Homo sapiens: one gene and its partners. Changing the gene in region 1 together with any one later gene gives a genetic interaction. Each region holds a gene or a part of one and is shown in the gene's direction. Other genes may lie near its edges.

Evidence for each region.
Region 2: changes in XRN2 (region 1) and FAM98B together harm fitness less than expected from each alone (positive genetic interaction), as found in Homo sapiens cells (one large-scale study listed by BioGRID).
Region 3: changes in XRN2 (region 1) and CDC27 together harm fitness more than expected from each alone (negative genetic interaction), as found in Homo sapiens cells (one large-scale study listed by BioGRID).
Region 4: changes in XRN2 (region 1) and NUDC together harm fitness less than expected from each alone (positive genetic interaction), as found in Homo sapiens cells (one large-scale study listed by BioGRID).
Region 5: changes in XRN2 (region 1) and TRA2B together harm fitness more than expected from each alone (negative genetic interaction), as found in Homo sapiens cells (one large-scale study listed by BioGRID).
Region 6: changes in XRN2 (region 1) and REXO2 together harm fitness more than expected from each alone (negative genetic interaction), as found in Homo sapiens cells (one large-scale study listed by BioGRID).
Region 7: changes in XRN2 (region 1) and TFB1M together harm fitness less than expected from each alone (positive genetic interaction), as found in Homo sapiens cells (one large-scale study listed by BioGRID).

Annotation. Positions count from the first base shown.
Region 1 is NC_000020.11:21,344,831-21,348,330, forward strand, and holds part of XRN2 (5'-3' exoribonuclease 2), read left to right. Parts: intron 1-1,003; coding exon of another isoform or gene 1,004-1,052; exon of another isoform or gene 1,053-1,063; intron 1,064-1,584; coding exon 1,585-1,720; intron 1,721-3,315; coding exon 3,316-3,423; intron 3,424-3,500. UniProt on the Homo sapiens protein: Possesses 5'->3' exoribonuclease activity. May promote the termination of transcription by RNA polymerase II.
Region 2 is NC_000015.10:38,485,127-38,488,210, forward strand, and holds the end of FAM98B (protein FAM98B), read left to right. Parts: 3' UTR 1-2,584; downstream 2,585-3,084. UniProt on the Homo sapiens protein: Positively stimulates PRMT1-induced protein arginine dimethylated arginine methylation.
Region 3 is NC_000017.11:47,151,296-47,154,795, reverse strand, and holds part of CDC27 (cell division cycle protein 27 homolog), read left to right. Parts: exon of another isoform or gene 1-9; coding exon 10-124; intron 125-2,859; coding exon of another isoform or gene 2,860-2,877; coding exon 2,878-2,990; intron 2,991-3,500. UniProt on the Homo sapiens protein: Component of the anaphase promoting complex/cyclosome (APC/C), a cell cycle-regulated E3 ubiquitin ligase that controls progression through mitosis and the G1 phase of the cell cycle.
Region 4 is NC_000001.11:26,928,243-26,931,742, forward strand, and holds part of NUDC (nuclear migration protein nudC), read left to right. Parts: intron 1-3,500. UniProt on the Homo sapiens protein: Plays a role in neurogenesis and neuronal migration. Necessary for correct formation of mitotic spindles and chromosome separation during mitosis. Necessary for cytokinesis and cell proliferation.
Region 5 is NC_000003.12:185,924,515-185,928,014, reverse strand, and holds part of TRA2B (transformer-2 protein homolog beta), read left to right. Parts: intron 1-1,280; coding exon 1,281-1,414; intron 1,415-2,388; coding exon 2,389-2,551; intron 2,552-3,500. UniProt on the Homo sapiens protein: Sequence-specific RNA-binding protein which participates in the control of pre-mRNA splicing. Can either activate or suppress exon inclusion. Acts additively with RBMX to promote exon 7 inclusion of the survival motor neuron SMN2.
Region 6 is NC_000011.10:114,438,294-114,442,266, forward strand, and holds the start of REXO2 (oligoribonuclease, mitochondrial precursor), read left to right. Parts: upstream 1-1,173; 5' UTR 1,174-1,235; coding exon 1,236-1,382; intron 1,383-2,362; coding exon 2,363-2,446; intron 2,447-3,973. UniProt on the Homo sapiens protein: 3'-to-5'exoribonuclease that preferentially degrades DNA and RNA oligonucleotides composed of only two nucleotides. Binds and degrades longer oligonucleotides with a lower affinity.
Region 7 is NC_000006.12:155,311,685-155,315,788, reverse strand, and holds the start of TFB1M (dimethyladenosine transferase 1, mitochondrial), read left to right. Parts: upstream 1-1,304; 5' UTR 1,305-1,360; coding exon 1,361-1,493; exon of another isoform or gene 1,494-1,672; intron 1,673-4,104. UniProt on the Homo sapiens protein: Mitochondrial methyltransferase which uses S-adenosyl methionine to dimethylate two highly conserved adjacent adenosine residues (A1583 and A1584) within the loop of helix 45 at the 3-prime end of 12S rRNA, thereby regulating the assembly or stability of the small subunit of the mitochondrial ribosome.

The DNA of each region.
Region 1 (3,500 bases):
ACCTCTCATGTAATTAAATCCAGATTTGAACCGTGGGCTCCAAGTGCAAAAGGCCAACAATCTCAATAATTGTAGCTCATTAAGAATTTAGGAAAACGATCTATTTCAAAGGTAAACAAGACAGTAGTCACCTACAGCTCATGCTTCTTTTACAGGACATGGAAAGTGTGTGATTTGTGTTTATGATTAGAAACTTTGCAAGGGTCACGTGTGGTTCTGCACATTTTTCTAACATTCTTTGATTTCAGATCCATGTCTACTTGTGATTGAACATTTACTCTGTATATCTTTAGTTTCTATCCTCTACTTTCTGTACTTTGGGTTTTCCTCTTACAGCATGTCTTTGGTTTTGTTTACTATGTAGCCATCATGATCAATACTAGTTTAATAGGTAACTTGATTTGTTTAGTATTTTATTGTTTAATCCTAGAGGAAATTGTTTAATCCTAGAGGAAATCATTGTTTAATCCTAGAGGAAATGCCTCTACCAAGAAATGCTTGGGGCTTTTAGCATTTTTTCATTAACCTTTTCTGTAAAATAGTGATAATCCACCTTATGAATGGGGGATATTTCTAATTGTTATTCTGTGACTCCTTTGTGTTGTGGGAGGGGCAGATTAAAATTGATATGGTATATTCTGAAACATGACTGCAATTAATATGTGAAATCTGGCACATGGAAAAGAGGCCTAAATGGAGAATCATCTTGATGTTCTTGATCTGTTCTGATGTTTGTAAAGTGTTATTTGGCTTCTTTATGTTCCTTAAATGTTAAATCTTAGAGAATAAGAAATGGATTCTTAAAAAAAATAATACATTGGATGAAAATGTGGTTGGTCACATTGTATTTTCAGTGATGAATGATAATTTAGTGGATTCATTGACCTGCTTCTAGATTTTACCATAACATACATATGTTTGTGTGTGTGTATGTATACATAGATATATAGAGATATAGAATGTGTATGTCTCTCTATATATATCTCTATCTCCTTTCCTTAAGCCATCAACAACTCTTAGCTGAAAGAGGGATAAGGCCCAAGCAAGGATAGAGAGAGTAGGTATACACATAATTTCTGCCTAATGTCTAGATTATTCTTTTATAAACTATTTTTTTACATTTAAAAAAGTTACCTGTGTGCGTCTTAAGTAATTTAGTTGACTTTCTTTGTATGGTTTAAATATATTTTAACAAACTAAGGAACTTGAACTATTTAAAATATCTTCAATATTTGAATCTTAAAATGTAGCTTTAGAATTGTACAAAGAAACATATAAAGTAGTATTAAAATTTGAGCAAATGTGTTCTGTATCTTTTTCAATAACATTTTTGAAAATGTGGTTTTATAATGGTCTTACCAGAATCAGTGATTGGGGTGTGTTTAACTGTCTTTAAGTTGATAATAAATCCTATGAAATTAGACTTTTTAGAAATAGTTAAATGAATCTGTGTTAGCATGACTGTTTAACTCTTTCACATTTCCCCTGGGTATTAAATATAAATTGATTTGGGGTATAAATTAGTAGACAGCCTGTTACTGAAGGTGTGTTAATTCAGCATAAATGAGCTGTGCCTGGTTTTAGGTTATGGGAAGCTGGCTGGAAGCAGCGGTACTACAAGAACAAATTTGATGTGGATGCAGCTGATGAGAAATTCCGTCGGAAAGTTGTGCAGTCGTACGTTGAAGGACTTTGCTGGGTTCTTAGATATTATTACCAGGTACAAAAAGAATATTTTCCTCTGAATTTGTAGTTAATCATTTAAGAAAAATAGTAATTTCTTTTTTTTTGTTTGTTTTTTGTTTTTGAGACGGAGTCTTGCCCTGTCACCTGGGCGGGAGGGCAATGGCGTGATCTCAACTCACTGCGACCTCTGCCTCCCAGGTTCAAGCGATTCTCCTGCCTCAGCCTCCTGAGTAGCTAGGATTACAGAGCGCACCACCACACCCGGCTAATTTTTGTATTTTTAGTAGAGACGGGGTTTCACCATGTTGGTCAGGCTGGTCTCAAACTCCTGACCTCGTGATCCGCCTGCCTCAGCCTCCTAAAGTAGTGGGATTACAGGCATGAACCACTGCGTCCAGCCCAGTAATTTCTGTAATAATAGTATTATTGAGCTGGATCTTGAAAACAAACCCAGGCTCATTTTTTAAAGCTCCCTATTCAGAAGTCCGTATTTGTAAATATTTGTTTCTGAAGACGTGGAAGTTTCTTAGATATTAATATAGAAACAAAGCTAATTTTTGTTAAAAGTATTTTCAGGATCAAGTAATGTGGTTGACTGCACTTTGTCTTTAAGATGACGAAAGGTTAGTGCTTTTTAAATTGGAGTTTAAAAATAACTGAGTAATGAATTGACAGTCACTGAATGACTGAACAGAGGACAAACCCTGGAAAATACAAATAAGAATTCTAAAGGAATTTGAATGCTACGCTTTTCATAATATAGTGATGATACATGAAGCACATTCTAATTGGAATAACCTGTATCCTACCTTTTGATAATTGAGATGTCAGATTGGTGAGAGATTAGGTAGACATATTGAGGACTGTAACACTGATAGTTAATATCTGGTTTCGTGCTTAGAGAGCAAACCAAGTTAAATTTGGTGTGACCTGGGAATAGATGAAGTTTGTTGACAAGTAGAAAGTAACACAGTGCACTGAGTATTGACCGTTAAGTACTCTGTTTGCGTTTTACTCCTACTGTCAAGATTTCAACTCACTAGACACTGTCTTAACACATCTTAGATATCTCTTTCCTATGAGTATAACTTGCTTTTGTTTTCTTTTTGCTGTGTTTACTCACATGTTTTTATAGTCAAAAGAAACTTGTCAGGTGAAAATATAATGGTGAATTTTAAAATGAAACTCATGGCTGTTTTACTTTCAACTGCTGTTCCAATAATGTCTCTAACCACCTTACATGCTCAGTAAATGTCTGCTGTGACTGCTTTTGGTTTTACTTGATGATGACAGCTCTAGAGATGGAAAGAAATGTCACCAAATGTATTTTAAGGATAAAAATCTTACCAAATTGTGTTTGTGAATATGAAGTTTGGCAGTAACTACTGATTTTTCAAAGATGCTTTGTAGCATTTTTAAAGTCAAAGAGCCATTGATATGAATTAGAAACTTCAAACTTAAGGAATTTTTAGGAGTCATGGAAAAGATCAGTATTTGGAATATATGCCAGAAGTCATGTGTTTTATAAGTAGAATATTATAGGTTAACAGTCTAATTTTTGTTTTTTTTAATTGTGTTCATCATTAACATAGGTTTTTGATTTTGTTGTTACTTTTTTAATGATTCTAGGGCTGTGCTTCCTGGAAGTGGTATTATCCATTTCATTATGCACCATTTGCTTCAGACTTTGAAGGCATTGCAGACATGCCATCTGATTTTGAGAAGGGTACGAAACCGGTAAGCTTAATTACTTAAAGTCATAAAGTTTATAGAATTCTGGATTAGATAATAATCTTGGGTCTTTAATGTTTTTT
Region 2 (3,084 bases), on another chromosome or scaffold:
AAATAGGGAAAGGCACTTCCAGTTGTATTTAGTAGGCAGTTGTTGTGAATCATTTTTTTCTCTTATAGGAGGAGATTCCTCTCTAGCCATGTTTCTGTTAAAGTTTCATTAATTGAAGCCCAAGTTTACTTTTTACTGTACATACTTATTTTCTAATTGGATTTGAAATCAGCATGATTTTGTTTGACAAAGCAAAGTTTAAGATTGAGGTCAGAAATACTTTAATGGAGCAAAGACACATACCAACTTTACATGACGGTGTGAGAAATAGTCCTATAAACTGGTCTCTTCATCATTTATGCTCTCACTTTAGATATCCAAATATTAAAAGGCAGGCTGACCTGTATCACACAGAATTAAGGCAGTAATTTTCTGCTTCAGTAGATCAAGGGTAGGGCTAAGGCATCCTGTGGTAATTCTGATTCACAGCTAGATTTGGGAAACACAAAGTTAGGGAATGGCTATATGTGATTTGCTAGTTGGAGCAGTCAAAGTCTTAGCTATCAAGAGTTGTGAATTTGAATCATGGCACTAGGTCAGGGGTGCTATGGATTGAAATGACCTTAGTTCTCAAGGAGTGATTTGTCCTCATTTGTCAAATGAGGAATGAGACACTTACCATCATCTCAGGTTGTTTCTTAAAGACCTAAATACAAATACAATTTGTTAAAAACTTACAGAGGGCCTATTTTGAATGCTTTAAGATGTAGGCCAAGTAATGTATTTTTCTCTTAGTGTAGAAAGTTAAGAGAAAAAGAGCTGGTACCATAAATTTTTTCAATCTTAGTGTAAAATCTGTATCTCATTGTAGGCTTCTGGTCAATACCTATACATAACAACTTAATGTGATCTAACCAACTCAACTGATAGAAAGCTGAATTGTTCCCAGTGGACAAGTGGTATTTGATGTTTAGCAGGTTTTTTTGTTGTTATTTTTTTGGTAAACTCTGTGGTAAAATCTAAAATAATGTTAAAACCCTAAAAGTAACTATTGAATATTCTGTAATCTTAGACATGTATTTTTCAAGCTAACCCTTTGAAGAAATGTGTTCAAGGTAGGAAAATATAAAATTTTTTGGTTATTTGTAAATTTATTTTTTGTGTGTTTATATTTAATGAAAAGATGTAATTTCATTTGTGATAGCTGAAAAAAAGGCTTTCCATAATTAAGAAAATACCTTTATCAGTAGCTATGAACTCTGAAAAATAATTTTTAAAAACTTTTAAGAAAAAAACTACTTGAGTAAAATATTTCAAGAGTTGTTTAAAAATCTTCTTTAAAACCTTTACATTTCTGCCTCACTTCTTTTTTGGTAGCATTAGTTGCTGATGAAGGAGATTTACAACTACTTTCAACTTTTTTACCACTAAAGGTTTATGGTAAATATGGCAGAAACAATAGTTTATCAGTTTCATTAGATTTTCCATAAGATTTCTTTGTACCTTTATAGGAGTGCTGCTTGGGTTATTCACTACAATCACTTATTTCCTATCAAAGTTTAGCACTTGCTCCTGGAATCGTGTTGGAGCTGAAACCACTCCTATGTACACATTCCTATAAACCTTAATTGAATGAAAAGCTGAATCAGGTAGACTCTTAATATTTTACTCTTTCCTGTAAGGTGGGATTTTCCTGATAATCTTTGTTCAGTAAAAATTTCTTTTGTAGAACAGTTTGCTGAGCAGTATCTGGAATAGCAGGAAGGAAATTTGGGGCCTTAATGGGAAAGGCCATAGTGTGAAAATGTTTTATAAATTGAGTGCAATACGACATGGAGTATGATGAATGGCACTCCACTGCTTCCTAAAATCCAACACTTTTTTTGATACCTCCTTTTCATTCTTTTTTGCCTGGTTCTCAATTTCATTTTTTAATTACCTCATTGTCCTTCCCCTTTTTTCTTCTCTTTTTGTCCAGCCTGGTACCTAATAGCAAATATAGACATGATCTTACTGGGAGTTTCTGCCTAAAGTAGTCATCTTTCCTCTCGACCGTATAAAGAGCATGTATTCTGTCTATAACATAATCACCACACTATTACTCATAAGCACACATCAAAAGGGAAACAAGGGTTTTCTTTGAACTTACTTTTGTTTTGCAGATCAGGGAAACCTTGCCTCATTAAACAGAAAAAGGAAAACATTTTAAATAAAAAACATCTTATTACCTGTATCTGTGACAAGAGGAGGCATGACAACCTAAAAAAAATTTGTGACCAGAAAAATGTCCTGAGCAGTGATACTATCTATACCTTGGAAGGAGCACAGGTTAGAGAAATGTGGGGATGAAAATTGGGGAAGGTGAGCAGGCAGTTTAATCTTGCCTTCAGGATCAGGCTGTCAGTGTGACTTTATTACTTTGTATGAAGTATTATGAATTGCCCAAATGATAAATACACCCCCATCTAAATGTTCCAGAATGCATTCCACAGAGGAATTTGAGTGACTGAAATTTTTCCTCTTTCTTCATTGGTGTGGTTAAACAAAAATTAGCTGGGGATTAAGGGAAAATTGTGGCTATGTCTGATCATTCTAAATAATCATGACCACAAATAAATTGCCCTGAGTAGGTCTGTAACCTGGATTGAGCTGTCGTTACCAATTTTATCCATAGCTTCAAAGGATTTCTTCTTTACATGCTAGTTTGCTTAGATGAAACTGTGGAATTAAAAGCCACAGAGAAGGGACAACCTCAAGTCTGTCTCCTTTAATGTTAAGTATTTATAGACTTAATATTTGGGGACCACTGTAAGTTATGAATAAGATGGAAAGAGATTGAATATTTCTGTAGTGTTACTTCTTCGTGTTGTAAAAAGATGTAGAAAATTTTAAACTGAATAGCTGCTTTGCCTTTCCTTCCAGGAAAACTCAATTTGATTAATAGAATAGGGCAGTGGTCTTAGCTGTGGAATATAGGAAAAATTCAGGTAAAGTGTTTACGGGGTCACGAAGCAGAAGAAACACAAGACATTTGTGTTGTAGGGATCCTAATGTCTTTTATCATATAAATATTACACAAAGAAAACTTACATTAGGTATCAAAAAACTTTACAATCTGTACATTTGTTTTTTTCTTGCATTTCT
Region 3 (3,500 bases), on another chromosome or scaffold:
TCTTCTCAGTTTTGGGATTTTGCCATTAGAAACCCCAAGTCCTGGAGATGGATCCTATTTACAAAACTACACTAATACACCTCCTGTAATTGATGTGCCATCCACCGGAGCCCCTTCAAAAAAGGTATTTTCCATGTAAAATGCAGTTTGGGAATTGATTAAAGCAACTTGTTTATTTCAATCTTTTAAAGGTAATCTCAGGGAAAATCTTACTTTATGTAATTGCTTTTGCCTTATATTTGAACCCAGCAGGTAGAGGGTGATCTAAATATAAAAGAATGTCATTATTGTTGTAGCCTCTTGGTTACAGTAGGAGACAGACTTCTTACTCTTTTGGCCAAGTAAGATTGTATCTCACAAATTTAGTTTATTTCAGCATATAGTTAAATAAACATAATCATATTTTTACTTTTTAATTTCCTTTTTAAAAAACAAAATTAATATTGTTTATATTACTTGACTATAAATAACAGAAATTATGTCTGCCATAGTTTTTACTTGTCCCTACCACTGTGTATATATGTTTTTTTAATAACACTAATAATTATATGAAAAAAAATTTGCTCAGGTAAAGCCAGATATTTCTGATAATAAGATTTTTGGTAGATCATGGATGTATAGTTTTAACATGAAAATGAAAAATATTTGGTAGTATACTTATAGTAAATATTGCGGCAAGTTTCATGAGGCTTTTTTTTTTTTTTTTTGAGACAGGGTCTCGCTCTCCTGCCCAGGCTGGAGTGCAGTGGTGTGACCATGACTCACTGTAGCCTCTACCTCCCAGGCTCAAGTGATCCTTCCACCTTAGCCTCCCAAGTACCTAGGACTATAGGTGTACACCACCACACCCAGCTAATTTTTTTAACTTTTATTTTTGTAGAGACAGGATCTCACTGTGTTGCCAGGGATGGTCTCAAACTCCTGGGCTCAAGCAATCCTCCTGCCTTGGCCTCTCAAAGTGCTAGGATTATAAACATGAGTCACTGCCCTGCTGAGGCTCTTGTTTTATAATGTTCCCTTTTATAGGTATATGGAAATAGAGGCCAAAATACCATTTTTAAAAAGCATATCTGTGGCACAAGGTAACTTCTGTGAGAATTAAATTAGGTTCTATATATAAAATACCTATTGCCATGCTTCATAAATATTCAAGAAATGGAAGCTAAACAAGTCATACTAATATGTGAATAACAGTTATACTCTCTTTACCTTAATAGAAACATGTTTCTTCTTATAGTTGTTTTTTTACTATTTTACTCCTGAACATCCTTAGAATCTGCAAAAGATTTTTCTATAATAACTCCTTAGTGAGTGATAATAGGAACTCCAAGAATACTTAAAAGGGACTGCAAAATAGTTTGTGTATGGATTGTTTTAAACATTACAGTTATGAAGAAGGCAAAACAAAATGGTAGTTAGCATGCCAGGTGAAGTAGGCCAAAACTAGAAGAGCCATAATAACCATAATAACCAGAGCAAGTTAAGACAGTGGGCAGGCACATGATTTTAGTGCCCAGATAAGATTGCTCTCTCATCCTCTTCTGCCTCTGTTCTCCTCTTACCTTATTACAAGACATTCCCAGAAAAGTCACGCATGTAGGTCTGCATGCAGTGTCAACTGAAAATATCAAACCAGGTATTGAGTGCAGTGTACATAGTTCTTTGATAAATAAGGAAAAGCCAGAGTTGACTTTTGTCCCTTGGATGAATGTAGTGATCCCAATTTGGAAAAGGCGGAGGAAGGCTTATGAAGTTTTATTTTGAAGTGGTGGTACATTAGATGAAAATATTCAGTAGAAAGTTAGTCATAGAGGAAAAAATGTGACCTGCTGATAGAAATAATAATTGAAACTATTAAAATGACCAGGCTCTCCTAGGGAAAGAAAGAGTAGCTAAGGAGAACAGAGTAAACCTAATTTAAAAATAGTAGAAGGATAAAGGGCCAGCAAATGAAGTGGCAGGACAAATAATGTAATGTTTTGGAAGTAACACAAAGTTTCAAAAAGTAGGGCATGATCAGTGATGTTGAATGCAGGAAAGGCTAAAATAAGGTTTTAATATCTGATGAGACAGTGATTATTAGTGATTATTTATAATATGCAGTTTGAGGATTGTGTACAGGACATCAGGGTAACAGTAAGTTTTGAAGAAAATTCTCTGGTAGCCAAAGGGGAAAAACAGTGCACTGATACAATAGTCATAGATCATTTAAAGAAGCTAGATGGTGGAAATGAATAGAAATAAGGGAATAAATTAGAGAAGACTGAAGAGCCAAGCAAAGATTTTTTTTTCTCCAAGGGAACAGAAACCAATTAATGAAGATTAGAAAAACTAAGCAATATTAACTCTAAAGAACAATATCCTTAGGTTTTGGAAAGTAATCAGATGGTTGTTTTTTTAAAATCTACTCCTCTGAACTCCTTTAGAACTGTTACCAAGTGCCAAAGGAGTATAAAATCTTATCGTATTATTATTTTTTTCTGTGTATAATGAGATAAATCATAAATCTTGAGAATTTAGCTGTCTTAAAATTTTTTAGTACTTAACCCCAAATAGAGAAGGTATGTAATAAATGGAGGATGGTCACAATGAGATGAAAAGAATAGCTTCTGGGGATTTTTAGTCTTTGAAACAAAAAGCGAAAGATGAAAAGACATTATAGAGGTAAAAATACTGTGAGATTAAAACAGGGAAATAGACTGATGTTCATACTAATACAACAATAATTAACAATATGATATAAATAGTTTATCTTTAAGGTGACAGTATATTATGGCTGCTTGTATTGAGAAAATGTAGATGGGAGCGTTGTGTTGTCTTTTATCATTTACAGTGCAGCCCATAATTCACAAACCTTAGACTTTTCGTGTTTTACAGTCTGTTGCCAGAATCGGCCAAACTGGAACAAAGTCTGTCTTCTCACAGAGTGGAAATAGCCGAGAGGTAACTCCAATTCTTGCACAAACACAAAGTTCTGGTCCACAAACAAGGTATTTATCATTGTAATTATTCAACTTTTCTTGGCATAAAACTTGATTCTTTACATTTCTTTAATTTAGGCAGATAGTGACTCTCGTGGATTCTAGAATAACTACTGTAAATTTTGAAGATGTAAAATTTGAAACCTCTAACTTACAACACTAATGTAATTTTGAGTTGAGTTTTGTAATGCACAGAAGACAATAGTTAACTAAAGCAGCATTTTAGTTTACTCTGATTGCCTCATGGATTTGTAATTTTCTTCTTATGCACATGACCCTTTCTATAGTTTAGGTACAGATAGGTTTCATACTCCCCTTCCCCACATTATGCATGTCTATAAACAGATTATAAAAATAACAGACAAATAAACTTCAAATAATGAATCTATTTCCACACAGAAATGGTGTTAGATAGGATTTTCTTTTCCTCTTCAAGGACTCAATAGATTATAGCTAACATTTTAAAAGGAAGATACAATTTTCTTTCTCCTTTCTAAAACTGTGAACATGTACCTAAAT
Region 4 (3,500 bases), on another chromosome or scaffold:
TGAATTTTTTTTGGTTAAAAAAACAAAATTTGCCATCTGTCATACTCTATAAAAATACCAATAATAAAAATCCTGTAAGGAAAACTAGGAAACTATAGTCTTATGTGGGGGAGACTTTTCAGCATTAGAAAACTGGAAGCTATAAAAGAAGAGATAGCTGTTTGCCTTTTCAGATGCTGAAACTTTGTAAATGGTAAAAGACATTTAAGTCAATTGAAGAACACCAGATTATGAGAAAATATGCAGTGCAGAGGAAAAATAACATTTAATTGTGAATTTCATATTTAGGAACTCATAAATAAAAATTAGCCAGGCCTTGTGGCACATGCCTTTAGTCCCAACCACTCAGGAGGCTGAGGTAGGAGGATTGCTTGAGCCTGGGAGGTTGAGGCTTCAGTGAGCCGTGATTGTGTCACTACGCTGCAGTCTTGGTGACAGAGCAGGACTTTGTTTCCAAAACAAAACCCACAATGAGATACTATTTCACATCTGTTAGGATGGCATCCGTTAAAAGATAAAACAAAATAACAAGTGTTGACAAAGATAGGGAGAAACTGGAACCCTTGTACACTGTGGTGGGAATGTCAAATGGTGCATCTGCTATGGAAAACGTTATGGCGGTTTCTCAGAAAGTTAAAGAATACAACTATCGTATGTTCTAGCAGTCATGCTTGTGGGTATATACCCAAAATAATCAGGAGGAGGATTTACTTGCACACCCATGTTCACAGCAGCCTTATTCATAACAGCCAAAAGGTGGAAGGAACCAAAGGCTCCATCAGCAGGTGAATGGATAAACAATGTGGTATAGACATACTCTGGGATGTTATTCTGCCTTAAAAGGGAAAGAAATCCTGTCCATTGCTACATGGATGTACCTTGGAGGACATCATGTTATATGAAATAAGCTGGTCACAAAAGGACAAATACAGTTGATCCTTTGTATCCGTGGGCTCTGCATCCATGAGCTTAACCAACCACTGATGGAAAATATTTGGAAAAAAAATTTTTTTTAAATGACAGTACAATAATAAAAAAATATGAATTAAGCCCGACGTGGTGACGCACACCTGTAATCCCAGCTACTTGGGTGGCTGAGATGGGAGGATGGCTTGAGCCCAGGAATTTGAGATCAGCCTGGGCAACATAGCAAGACCCCTTCTGAAAAAACAAAAAAAAAAAACAAATTAAAAAAATATAATCTAATTACTTACATCCGTAGCAGTTACATTGTATTAGGTATTAGGTAATCTAGGGATGATTGAGAGTATGCAGGAGGATGCATGTAGGTTATATGCAAATAAAATGCCATTTTATATAAGGGACTTGAGCATCCTCGGAAATTAGTGTTGGGGAGTGGTCCTGGAACAAATCTTCGTGGGTACGGTGGGACTACCCTATTGCATTCCACTTACATATAATTGAAGGCATATTTTTTGATGAGTAAATATTATGTGACTATCTAAAAGAAAAGTTACTGTTTAAAAACATAACTGTAGGGCCGGGCACAGTGGCTCATACCTGTAATCCCAGCACTTTGGGAAGCTGAGGTGGGTGGATCACCTGAGGTCAGGAGTTAGAGGCCAGCCTGGCCAATATGGTGAAACCCTGTCCCTACTAAAAATACAAAAATTAGCTGGGCATGGTGGTAGGCGCCTGTAATCCCAGCTACTCGGGAGGCTGAGGCAGGAGAATCACTTGAACCCAGGAGGCGGAGGTTTCAGTGAGTCGAGATCGCACCACTGCACTCTACCCTGGGCAACAAGAGTGAAACTCCGTCTCAAAAACAAAAACAACAACAACAGCCACAACAAATGTAACTGTAATGGTATACCTTCTCCAGAAAAGCATACCAATTCTTTAAATATTACCAGAGATCCACATCCAGTCAGGGTTCTGATTTCCCTCAATGCTCTCTTACTATTGTGTTTTGTTTTGTTTTGAGACAGGGTCTCGCTCTGCTGCCCAGCCTGGATGGTGTCCAGTAGTGCGATCATGATTCACTGCAGCCATGACCACTAGGCTCAGGCGGTCCTCTCACCTCAGCCTCCTGAGTAACTGGGAGTATAGGCGTGCCCCACCACACCCAGCTAATTTTTGTATTTTTTGTAGAGTGGGGGTTTCACCATCTTGCCCAAGCAGGTCTTGAATTTCTGATTCTGATCTCAAGCGACCTACCCGCCTTTGCGGCCGCCATTGTACCCAGCTCTTTTGTTTTTTAAAAAAATATGGGCTGAGATGGGGGGATCACTTGAGGCCAGGTGTTCAAGACCAGTCTGGTCCAACATAGAGCATATCTGTACAAAAAATAGAAAATCATAGCCAAGAGTGGTGGCACAAGCCTGTAGTCCCAGCTACTCTGCAGACCAAGGTGGGAGGATCTCTGGAGCCCAGGAGTTTGAGGCTGCAGTGACCCATGATAAACGGCACTGTAATCCATCCTGGGCAACAGAGCTAAACCCTGTCTCAAAAAAAAAAAAAAAAAAATAGTGGGCTGGGCACGGTGGCTCACACCTGTAATCCCAGCACTTTGGAAGGCCGAGGTGGGCAGATCACCTGAGGTCAGGAGTTTGAGACCAGCCTGGCCAAATGGTGAAACCTCGTCTCTACTAAAAATACAAAAATTAGCTGGGCATGGTGGCAGGGGCCTGTAATCCCAGCTACTCGAGAAGCTGAGGTGGGAGAATTGCTTGAACCTGGGAGACAGAGTTTGCAGTGAGCCGAGATCATGCCATTACACTCCAGCCTGGGCCACAGAGCGAGACTCTGTCTCAGAAAAAAAGTGTGGTAAAAAGCACATCATAAAATTTACCTTCTTAACCTTTGTTTTGTTTTTTGTTTGTTTGTTTGTTTGAGACGGAGTCTCGCTCTGTTGCCCAGCCTGGAGTGCAGTGGCGCCATCTTGGCTCACTGCAACCTCTGCCTCCCAGGTTCCAGCAGTTCTCCCACCTCAGCCTCCCGAGTAGCTGGGATTACAGGCGTGTGCCACCACGCCTGGCTAATTTTTGTATTTTTAGTAGAGATGGGGTTTTACCATGTTGGCCAGGCTGATCTCGAACTCCTGACCTCAGGTGATCTGCCTGCCTCAGCCTCCCAAAGTGCTGGGATTACAGGCATGAACCACTGCGCCTGGCCTTTTTTTTTTTTTTTTTTTTTTTGAGGTAGAGTCTCGCTTTTTCGCCCAGGTTGGAGTGCAGTGGCACCATTTCGGCTCACTGCAACCTGTGCCTCCTGGGTTCAAGAGATTTCTCGTACCGGTTGGGCACGGTGGCTCACACCTATAATCCCAGCACTTTGGGAGGCCGAGGTGGGCGGATCATGAGGTCAGGAGATCGAGACTATCCTGGCCAACGCGGTGAAACCCTGTCTCTACTAAAAATACAAAAATTAGCCGGGCATGGTGGCACTCTCCTATAATCCCAGCTACTCGGGAGGCTGAGGGAGGAGAATCGCTTGAACCCAGGAGTCAGAGGTTGCAGTGAGCCAAGATCGCCACTGCA
Region 5 (3,500 bases), on another chromosome or scaffold:
TCACCTTTGATTCATGCCATATAGTGACTTACTGTAATACTGCTTCCTTTTGAGTCTTGCCATTTCTGCTCTCTGGAGTAGAAAGGCTTACCAGGCTTTACTTTGTCTAAGTTTGATAACCTAAAATAAAGGTTGCCTTGATAATTTTACCTAGCTATCAGACTGACTAGGAGTAGGTTCTGTCCTTTCCTCATCTACTGTTTTGGTGCCTTGGCAGAACTTTTCCTTGGTTTCATTACTTAGTATACCCTTTTGTTGATTATGTGTCTTTAGCTCGTTGGTGACCTAGTTATCCTGGTTACCATTCCTTTGCTATTTTTCATTACAAATCCCCCCTTAACCTGCCAGCCAATCCCAGTTTTGGTTGGGAAAGCTATGAGTACACAATGTTTACCTAAACTTTGGCTTTTGTATGTAGTTTCTGTACTCTTTTGCTTCCTGGGCCCTAGGTTAGGAGCTCCTGATTTAGCTGCCTGGTTTTGATGTGTACTTAAGTAACTAGGTAAGTTAGGTTAATTCCTGGTTTTCCATAAGTTTGCCCTGGCTCATCTCCATTTAGCTGGAGAAGCTGTGGAGGATCTCTGACACCCTCTCTACTCTTATTTGTGTGTAGTTCGCTGTTCTGTTGTAGCTCCATCTGGTTGCTTTCAGTTTTTTAGGGGGCCTCCCACCATGGTTAGATGCAATAGGGTTTTACAGGGTTTAGTGTCCTTCAAGCTAGCCTTTGCTTTCCACTAGGTTTCTGCTTTTCTCTAGGATTTGAAACTGAGATCATCATCTTTATCTCTTATCACTGAATTATAAGTAGTAACTTGAAAGGTCAAGGTCTTTTTAAAAATCAAGCATTTTTTTAAGTAAATTATATAAATTATATAGGATTTTGTTTTATTGATTGCAACTTGATTGAAATAGGTATAAAGTATAGGTGTCATAGTTAATAAGGTTCCGCCTCACCCTAGTCTTTATGGAGTAACATTCTGAAACACAGTCCTTGGACAGTTCCCTTAACTGCTTGACTTTGGCACCCCTTTCTGAAGGAAGTGGGGTCAAATAACTCTTATCCCTGCTCCAAAAAGGTGGAAGAAAGGACAAGTTAATTGACTTATGTCATTTGGAGCAATGAAACTATTAACACCAGGTATATTCAGTTCCTGCCCTTACCTATATTTTCTTATCTTGGAAGGGGATTGCTGTCCCTCACCATTTATCTCACAGCAGCTTATTTGTTTTTAAAGTTGCCCAGAAAGTGTGCAAATTAAACTTTTAACATCTACGTGTAGGAATCCCGTTCTGCTTCCAGAAGTGGAAGTGCTCACGGATCGGGGAAATCTGCAAGGCATACCCCTGCAAGGTCTCGCTCCAAGGAAGATTCCAGGCGTTCCAGATCAAAGTCCAGGTCCCGATCTGAATCTAGGTAAGAAAGACTGTCTTGAGATTTCCTCGTTACTCTTAGCTCTGAAATTGGTGCGTGTTTTGTAAACCAGGAAGGTAGAGAGGGTTAGATTATTTGTTGGCCTATTAAATATTGGTACTAGAAGTGAACTTAAGTTCTGGGAGGCAAGACTAAAAGCGGTTAAGAGCCTGGGCTTTTGGAGTCAGGGTTTTCTATTTTTGCTGGTTTGGGCAGATTAACCTTTCAGCTTTAGCTTCTTTATAAAAGGCAAATTAGTAATACAGTACCAGTTCTTCAGGGTTGTTGTGAGGATTTACTAAATGTAAGTAAACTGCTTACTAGTATGGCAAATATACTGCAGAACATTGGCTTTCAGTAATTAGAATTCTTGATAAATAAGTATATATATGGTGCGCTTTTTTTTTTTTAATGTTGGTCAAAAGTAGGCTATATATACATCCTGGTTTGCCTGGGGCGATACCATTTATGCCTGTGGTCAGGCATAATTAACAGCACCCCTTTTCTTAAATGTGTGTCCTCGTTTCGATGACAATTTAGAGTCACTCTAGTTAGTCAAGAGCCACTCAATTTTTTGTTTTTTTAACTGCTGGGGAATACTCCTTGTGATTTTGTTACTGTATTAAATTAATGGTGGGCATAATGGGAGACAGAAAAGTAGAGAATGGTCTTCTGAGGGGGAAAGATGGGCACAAGCCAAGCTAGTAAAATGCTGCGTGCCTTGATTTGTAAAAGATAAGTAATATGTCTTTAATTGGAAGAAATACTGGAGGAGAGCTTGTGGTTTTTAGAACGCTTCCTAGCAAAGTTGAAATGACTAAATAATTAGAGAAGAAAAGTATTGATCCTACTAAATTGGTAACCATGTTAGCATATTCCTGGATTGTTCCCTCTTTTGGAGTTTAACTTTAGAACAGAGTAATAAAGAAGACAATATTTGTTTTCAGTCATAACCTTAGGAGGTCTTTGTCTTGCAGGTCTAGATCCAGAAGAAGCTCCCGAAGGCATTATACCCGGTCACGGTCTCGCTCCCGCTCCCATAGACGATCACGTAGCAGGTCTTACAGTCGAGATTATCGTAGACGGCACAGCCACAGCCATTCTCCCATGTCTACTCGCAGGCGTCATGTTGGGAATCGGGTAAGATGAAAAACTGGTTTTGAAGCAGTCAACTGCCTAAATTTACTTTTTCTTAAAGTTAGAGCTGATTTTGACAATAGAGCTTTAGCAGTTGGTGCGTGAGTGAAATCTTCAGAGGCTTTTTTAGTGTTTTGAGAGAGTCTTTTAAGTTAATCTTCCATGACGGGGTCTGCATTTGGGCTGCCTGTCAATTAAGCATAATACTGACACAATGGTGTAACTCCTTAGCCCATCAAAAAAAAAAACTTCCGACTGCATTACTATACTGTAGTATAGTATTAGTACATTAGTTCAAAATATAGTTCTATGCTAACATTAACTCTTTCCAGGCTGCATAAACCTAGTTAGATGCTCTCCTGACTTTCCCATTTAATTTGAAGCTAATTTCTTTTGGGTGTTGTTAAGGCATTTTTTACATTTCATGAAAGGCTTCAAATGAGATGATATTTATTGTGATTTCACTGTATAATCCAAGTGGTTTAGGAGGAGGGTGCAGGGGGGGACTTAATGTTTTTAGAGTAGAGTAGAATTTTTCCCTAGTAAATTGTTAGTTTATGAAATAAATGGAATCTTTAGGTAAATTCATCACAGCATCTGGAATGTTAGCAACATATGGCTCACTCTTTATTCTTTCCTCTTGTCATCTTTTTTTGAGACAGGGCCTCACTCTGTCGCCCAGTCTGGAGTGCAGTGGTGCAATCTCAGCTTACTGCAGCTTCTACCTTGCAGGCTTAAGCGATCCGCCCACCTCAGCCTCCTGAGTAGCTAGGACTAGAGGCATGCCACCACACCCAGTAATTTGTTATATTTTTGTAGAGACATGGGGTCTCACTGTGTTGCCCAGGCTAGTCTCAAAACTCCTGAGCTTCAAGCAGTCCACCAGCCTTGGCCTCCCAGAGTGTTTGGATTACAAGCATGAGCCACTGCGCCTGGCCAACTCTTGTTTCTT
Region 6 (3,973 bases), on another chromosome or scaffold:
GAAATAAGGGATAATCCTTGGCCAAATTGTCAGAGGCATTTGAAGAGTAACCCTATCTTGAATAGGGGCTGGGTAAAATAACACCGAGACCTACTGGGCTGCATTCCTAGGAGGTTAGGTATTCTAAGTGCCAGGAAGGGATAGGAAGTCAGCATAAGATACGGGTCACAATAGACTTTGCTGACAAAACAGGGTGCTGTAAAGAAGCTGGCCAAATCCCACTAAAACCAAGATGACAAAGTGACCTCTAGTCATTTTCACTACTCATTATACAGTAATTACAATACATTAGCATGCTAAACGACACTCCTACCAGCGCCATGACAGTTCACAGATGCCATGGCAACCTTAGGAAGTTACCCTATATGATCTAAAAGCGGAGAACCCTCAGTTCCCGGTATTGTCCACCCCTTGTTTAGCATATAATCAAGAAATAAGTGTAAGTATACTCGGTCGCCCATGCCCCTGCTCTGCCTATGGAGTAGGCATTCTTTTATTTCTTTACTTTTAATAAACTTGCTTTCACTTTATGGACTCGCCCTGAATTCTTTCTTGCAGGAGGTCCAAGAACCCACTCTTTGGGTCTGGATCTGGACCGCTTTCCCATAAGAAAAAGAAGGAAGGTAACTAACTTTGACTGAACACCTGATACGTGCTAAATGATTTCTCAGACAAGATCTTATTTAAATATTTCTAAATGATTTGATGATAATGTTAATGGCCTTCTGGCCCCCAAAAGCACACTGCCTCTTGGTCCCAAATAAATGAGGAAAATATCCAGTTTGTGGAATAGAGGGGCAGGTAAGTAAAAAAAGAAAAAGAAATGCAAAGAAGGAAAGATATACATGAAAAAAATGTCATACAGAGATAATCAGCTCTTTTCCAACCAACCAAAGTAAGAGTTCTTTTTTAACTGCGCGGTTACAACTAACCAAAACTCAGGAAATAACTCCTGGAAGCAAACAAACTTAGCAGTGAAAAACAAGCGCGTCCAGTAACACCAGAAAAACACGTGGCGGGGGTGGGGCATCTGGTCGCAACCGCAGGTGAGACTCTAAGTCCCATCATTCCCTTCGGCAGCCAAGCCAGGCTGTTGAGGGCGAGCCGGCGCACCGTACGCTGGGACGTGTGGTTTCAGCTCGTGCGCCTCCCCGTGGGTTTGCGACGTTTAGCGACTATTGCGCCTGCGCCAGCGCCGGCTGCGAGACTGGGGCCGTGGCTGCTGGTCCCGGGTGATGCTAGGCGGCTCCCTGGGCTCCAGGCTGTTGCGGGGTGTAGGTGGGAGTCACGGACGGTTCGGGGCCCGAGGTGTCCGCGAAGGTGGCGCAGCCATGGCGGCAGGGGAGAGCATGGCTCAGCGGATGGTCTGGGTGGACCTGGAGGTGAGTGAGGTCGGCGGGGGGCTTGGGGAGGCGAGTGAGGTTTCGCTCGTGGAACCGAGGAGTCGAGCCCGTCCTGGGAGAGCGTTGGGGGTCTGGGTCTCAGGTGTGGCAGGTGAGCGCGGCCGGCCACGGGCGGTGCAGGGCAAGTCCGGAGGCAGGAGTCCTGCGGGTGTTGGGCGCCGTGCTGCGCTGTAGGGCTTCTTTCCACAAGGGAGGAGTCCTCCGTGTGGCTTCTTCTCCTCCCTACCCCTCCGCCCAGATGTGGACTTTTCCTAACGCTCTGGCGTCTCTGGGCTTGGGTCACTGGAGTGGGGGCGGGGGCAGCGGCTCTGTTCCCAGCTTCCCCCAACTAAATCCTTAAAGGACCCTAGGTTGTTAGGGCCAGACGGGACTCCGGAGATGACTCAGCCTTACCCCTCATTCCATAAGTGAGAACATTGAGGCCCACAGAAAGGATTCAACTCATTCAAGGTCGTGCTGTTAGTGAGAGTCTGAGTTGAGACCAGAACCCAGTTCCTATCCCTTCAGGCTTTCCATGCCCGAAACAAGGGCTCCTCCCACCGTTGAGCCTCAGTTTATATGAAGTGAGGATAATAACAGTAGTTTTTCCATTAGATTGTGAAGGTCCAGTGGTGTAATTAATGTGAAAACTTTGTAAACTCTGCAGAGACGTGGTGGTGGTAGTTATCCAACTCTTCCAAAACTGAGTGATGTCAGCACTCAGTTTTACTTACTTTGCATCTGTCCCGGAGTAGAATCTCAGTGCTTGACAAATAGCAGGCCCTTGGTAAATGTTTGTTGAATAAACGAGGACTCGTGTTTAGTACCTTCAGTAGTTGCCCGAGGAGCATTCTTTCTCTTCTGTTTCGGCTATGGATTACAAGCTGACTATGTTTGAGGGAATTCCTGTTAAATAAACTTGGGTAAAAGAGGCCAGAATGATGGCTTTGTGTGTGTTATATATTTATTTTTAATTGCAGATGACAGGATTGGACATTGAGAAGGACCAGATTATTGAGATGGCCTGTCTGATAACTGACTCTGATCTCAACATTTTGGCTGAAGTACGTGATGCCATGTAATACAGTCATACTTTTTAAAGGGCACTGGAAATATAACCATCATTTTTTCCAGCTTCTTTATTTAAAAAATAAGAAAGTTGAGGTCTATATGGGTTAAGGTAATGTGCTAGGTCATGGTAGGGGTGGTACTAGAACCAAAGTAATCCATCTCACAGCCTAGTGAAAATTAAAAATTAAACATTATTTTTTAATTAACCATGCCAGAAATTTACAGAAACATAAATTCTGTCGTTTACTGAGCGCTTACTGTATGCCAGCTACAGTTTCTGTGTGCTTTATATGTCTTTGTTCTTAGTTCTCACAGCAACTATAAGTTAGTTATTGTTATAATGCTCATTTGATGGATGAGGACACTTGAGCATAGAGATGTTGGGTAATTTGTCTGAGGTCCCAGTGGCTGTTTACTGGGGGAGCCAAGAGTTTAACTCAGGCTGTCTCAGTAAGGTGCTCCTAACAAGTAGGACAGCCAGCTGTCCTCCCATCAGATTTGGTGACTCGTGCCAATGTTTGCGTCTTTATATCATAACCTTGACTTTAACTTGACTCCATATTTACAATTCTGCCTTTTCAACTAGGACATGTGATTCTTCTAGATCAGTATTAAGATTTTAGAATTTCTGTTAGTGCACACCCGTAAAGTGTTCTGTTGTTGACAGATTGGGCATGATTAAGGTTTTTGCATGCTACTTCCAACTGAAACATTTAGCAAAACAAAACACACCTGCTGCATTTCAGCCACTCATGAAACATTTAATAAGGATGTGACACCATCTGGTAGGGGGTGAAATCCCTGACCCTGAATAATTCTGTTTTATACTGTCAGCAGTATTCAGAGCCAGAAACTCCAGAATAGGAACAAAGTAGGGATGTTTGTGGAAAAGAGAGTCTTGTTAAAATAAGTTCCTAGAGGGTAGCATTGATATGTTACTGGCACTGGATACATTTCGTAAATCTGCAGTTAACACTTTTGTTTGTTTTGCTGTGTAGGTAAAAGAGGTGAGGACGTATTTCTAGATTAATGACTGCGTTTGTGGAGTACCAGGCTTATCCTCCCCACATATCAACTGTAGGAGAATCATGAGACTTTGTACTTCTCATCATAACAACTTTTTTAACTTTGTATAAATAAAGCCCTGAGTTTTAGATTTGGTTGTTTTTTTCTGTTACTTGGGATTTATTGGAGATCAATAGTGAAGAGAAGTGTCTTTATTTTACCAGTCTAACTTACCCTTGGCCGAAGAAGAGTGTTTCCTTTAGACTGTTGATATAATGTGAAATACTGACAGTTTAATGGACCCGTAGGTTGATATGTACCCTGGAGGAAATTTGGGTATGTATTCACACAGCTGCAGATGAATGCAGCATTTGTAAATGGACTAAGTCAGATGAGGATAAAGATGTTAAAAAAAAAAAAAAAGCTTAGGGGCTATCAGTTCTGCAGTATGTTTTATTCTTTTATAAGAGTCTGAGAAAAATGTTTTATGCTGGTAGAAGAGCAGGCATCCTACT
Region 7 (4,104 bases), on another chromosome or scaffold:
TGACTCTGGGCATTGTCAAATGACCTCACCTCCCCTATTTCTTCACAGCAAACTAAGAATAATAATCTCATTCACATGGGACCATTGTGAGGAGTACGGGAAATAATGAATATAACTGTGAAATAATGCTTTGTCAGGTATACTGTGTTTTGGACGATAAGATATCTGAATCAAGAGTTTGTACTTCCAGTCTACATTTTGATGCCACGTTGGGCAAATCTCCTTACCTCTATGGTAGTCATCACTATTTTTTAAAGCTAGGAGATTATCTCAGTTCCTTTTAAAACAGCTTTTATAGAAGGTGGTTGAGTTTTCCACTGGAATTTCAAAGTACTCCTCATTTTTATATCCATACCCATAGTTGTTTCGTTTTCCATTAGCTTTTTTAAAAACTTACTAATTGAGGAACAGAAACTTTAAAATTCATTTGTGATCAACGCAGCAATGTCCAAACATAAGCAGGGTTAAAACAGCAAAATTCTCCCACCTATCAGAGAAACTTTAATTTTTTTTTTTTTTTGCTTCGTTGTTTTTATCTCGTATAACGGAAAGACAGAACTCATATTTCAGTCTTCTCTCTGTTCTTAGCTGTAATCCTAGCAAATCGAATGACCTCTTTACACTGGCCAATTATTCATCTGCCAAATAATAACAGCCACCACTGATCACGTGGGAGCTTACCCAATGCCATGCGTGCACTATGTTCTGAACGTGCACACCAGGCGATCTCTCTCATTTAGTGCTCACAATTTTGAGGTAGACATTAGCTCCATTTAACTGATGAAAAAACTGAGGCTGAACGAAGTTAAAAACCCATCATGCAGCATCTGCAGAGCGGCGGTTCTAAAAACGCCTCACAGTAAGAAAGAATTGCTAACAAACAGTAGCTTTGCCTCTAAGCACCCGCTTTTCCTCTAATATTCACAGACAGGTATTTAGAACGTTAAAGAGCCGGAAGCCCTTGGGAACTTCAGGGCGGGAGTAAACCGGCTGCACCTCTCAGAGCAACTCCTCCGAAAAACCCCACCCTGTCCAGGCCCCGCCTCGTCCCGCCCTCCTGGGCGCTCTCCCCATAGCCCGCCCAGGAGAAGCCTAGTCCACCCGGCTCTCCCCCGGCTCTCACAGGCGGAAGCCGCCGACCACCCAGCCTGCCCTTCTCGCGGCAGGACTTAGCGCATGCGCTCTCAGCACGCCGGGAATTTCCTGTCCGCGGTCATCGCTTCCGGTGGGATAGGTCTGACCAATGGGGCTGACTCCGAGGCGGGCCTTAGGTCTCGCAGGTTCCTCCCCTGCGCGTTTCTTTCGGAGCGGCGGTGAAGGTCCTGGGTGAGGTAGGGTTGGATGGTGCTTGCCGCGTATCATGGCTGCCTCCGGAAAACTCAGCACTTGCCGTCTCCCTCCGTTGCCCACGATTCGAGAAATCATTAAGTTGTTAAGACTGCAAGCAGCGAAGCAGCTATCACAGAATTTCCTCCTGGACTTGAGGCTGACAGGTGGATGGCTTAGCAGTGCTCCCCGGATGTCTCCCCAGTGTCCGTGGGGGCGTGGGCCGGGGGGTCTTGCACGTCCCCGCGGGCGGGTGTCCAGGCACTGGCGTGCGACGGGCTTTTGGTCAGGTCCTTCGACCTCTTTGTATCAGAACTCCGGTCCCACCGCCCAGGAGACACGTGAAGTGCGTTGATTGCTCACAAAACTCCGCGTTCGGGGGGGTGTAGCCTGCCGGCAGGCTGCATAAATGCCAAGCTCCCTAGGGGAGGAAGGGTTCATGGGTCGTGAAAGGCGCTAGTGAATATTGGAATCTGGGTCACTGTGAAATCAATCATTCTGAAATAGTACAGCACATGCTGACTGCAGTTGCTTTACATGCAGTTTAAAGTTACCAGAATTTAAATTGATGCGAGGATTTTATCAATAACTTGGTGAAAAGAGTATCCCTCGTATGATTCGTTTTTTAAACGTTTACCTGTTCAGTCTAAGCCTCGGGGGCGCTAATATTCATTCATAAGTACATATTACACAAGCAACATTGTGCTAGTGCCGGGGGTAGGATATGGGCGTGAACAAGGCGGTGTTTCCTCGAGGAGCTTACTTTTAGCAAGTTTACATTCCCACACCTAATTGTTTAAAGTTACTTTTTATGAGATATAATTTATGTGCAATAAAATTAATAAGTTTGAAGTGCTCAATTTGATGAGTTTTGACGAATGTATTTATATATTGGTTTAACCACCATCACCATTGCTTAGTGATGTTCTATGAGATGAGGTTGCAAAAATATATTACAAATACGTCTACTAAGTCACGGCTGGAGTACTTAGGTTTTGAGATTTTCATATTTCATTCTATTTAGTCCCACTTCAGAAGTTGAAAAGAGCAGTAAATCACACCCAAAAAGTTCATTTTCACTTAAATGAAGCACACTCCAGAAAACATAAAATGTTTTATTTCTTGGACATGTAGTCTTTATTCTGCCTGTACCAATATGACTTTGGATAAAATAATTTAACTCAAGTTTTCTCTTTTTTTTTTTTTTCTTTTTTTAAGATGGAGTTTCACTCTTGTTGCCCAAGCTGGAGTGCAATGGCATGATCTCAGCTCACTGCAACCTCCGCCTCCCCGGTTCAAGTGATTCTCGTGCCTCAGCCTCCCAGGTAGCTAGGATTACAGGCGTGAGCCACCGTGCCTAGCTAATTTTGTGTTTTTAGTAAAGACAGGGTTTCACTATGTTGCTCAGGCTGGTCTCAAACTCCTGATCTCAAGTGATCCACTCGCCTCGGCCTTCCAAAGTGTTGGGATTACAGGTGTGAGCCACCATGTCCAGTAGTTTCCTCATCTTTTAATTGGAAGAAGGGCCTACTACTTTAAAAGATTGCCCACTCTAAAATTCTTTGGTTCTAGTAATAGCTAGTACCAGCCTTTTCTGCTTGTTATTAGCCACATTCTAAATATAAATCACCATTCTCAGGGCAGAAGTTATAGGTCTGTGTATTTTTTAAAATCCTTCAAATACATTTTCTCATGAGCCTTTATCTTCAGGAGTAAGTTTCAAATTCTAGATATTATCCACTCTTTCTATGGGAACCAGAGTTAACGGAGATGAGGGTACTTAGCTGAGGTTAGAAGCTCAGGCAGAAGAGAGCAAGATTGAAATCCAAGCTCATTGATTTGATAGCGCTTCTTTAATATTCATTTGTATTTCAATGTGCCTGAAAAGTTTGAGAGCAGAGACCTGCCTACTGTTGTAGCTCTCCATTTTAAAGAAGGAGAGTATTAAATTTATTCCATAATGTATCATTCCTGTTCCCTCTGAGAGGCATTGGCTTTAGGATTTATACCTATGTTGAAGTCCATGACCTTGTACAAATAAAACAATAGACAAGGAAACTGAAAAGTTAAGAGAAATGAAATTGGGATAGGAGTCCTTGGTTAACATGTAAGGATTAGGTGAGAATGTGTGTAAATCCATCATAATAGATAAGATGGTCAGTGGATGCTAATTCCCTCCCTGTTAAAAGACTAAACCATTTTTGGATGGCTGAGAAACTAGTTTCCGCATTTTAGCTGACAAAGTTATGTTGTTGAAAACAAGCAAAAATAGGACTGTGAACACCTACAAGAAGTGCTGGTATGTTTTTAGTGACTAAATTTCCACTATCCTAGGAAGACCAGTTCCTTGGATTTCCATATCTCAGAATCACTAAGACCAGCCCATTGCATGTTTTTCCAGATGTGATGACTGGTTGCACAGAGTCAGTACTCTACCTTTTTATGATGTCTTAAGGGCTGCTAACTTGAATTTGATTAATTAAAAAATTAATTTTTCTGTATTAACATGCATGTGTGCAAAGCTTTAAAAACCCTCAACTGCTCAATTTAACTTTTTCCTGAAAATGACTAAGAATTCAAATTTCTGAAAATCTTACGATCTAAGAACTTATTGCCATTGCCATAGTGACCACCACCAAGATGTCTCTAGATAAAAATAAGACTTCAGCACTTTTTGCTTTTGGATTTCACTAGCAATACTGAAGATTCTGAATGTGAAACTAGTATTGCTTATTCAGATATTCAATGTTCAATAACTATAGAAAAGTGCTGCATTCT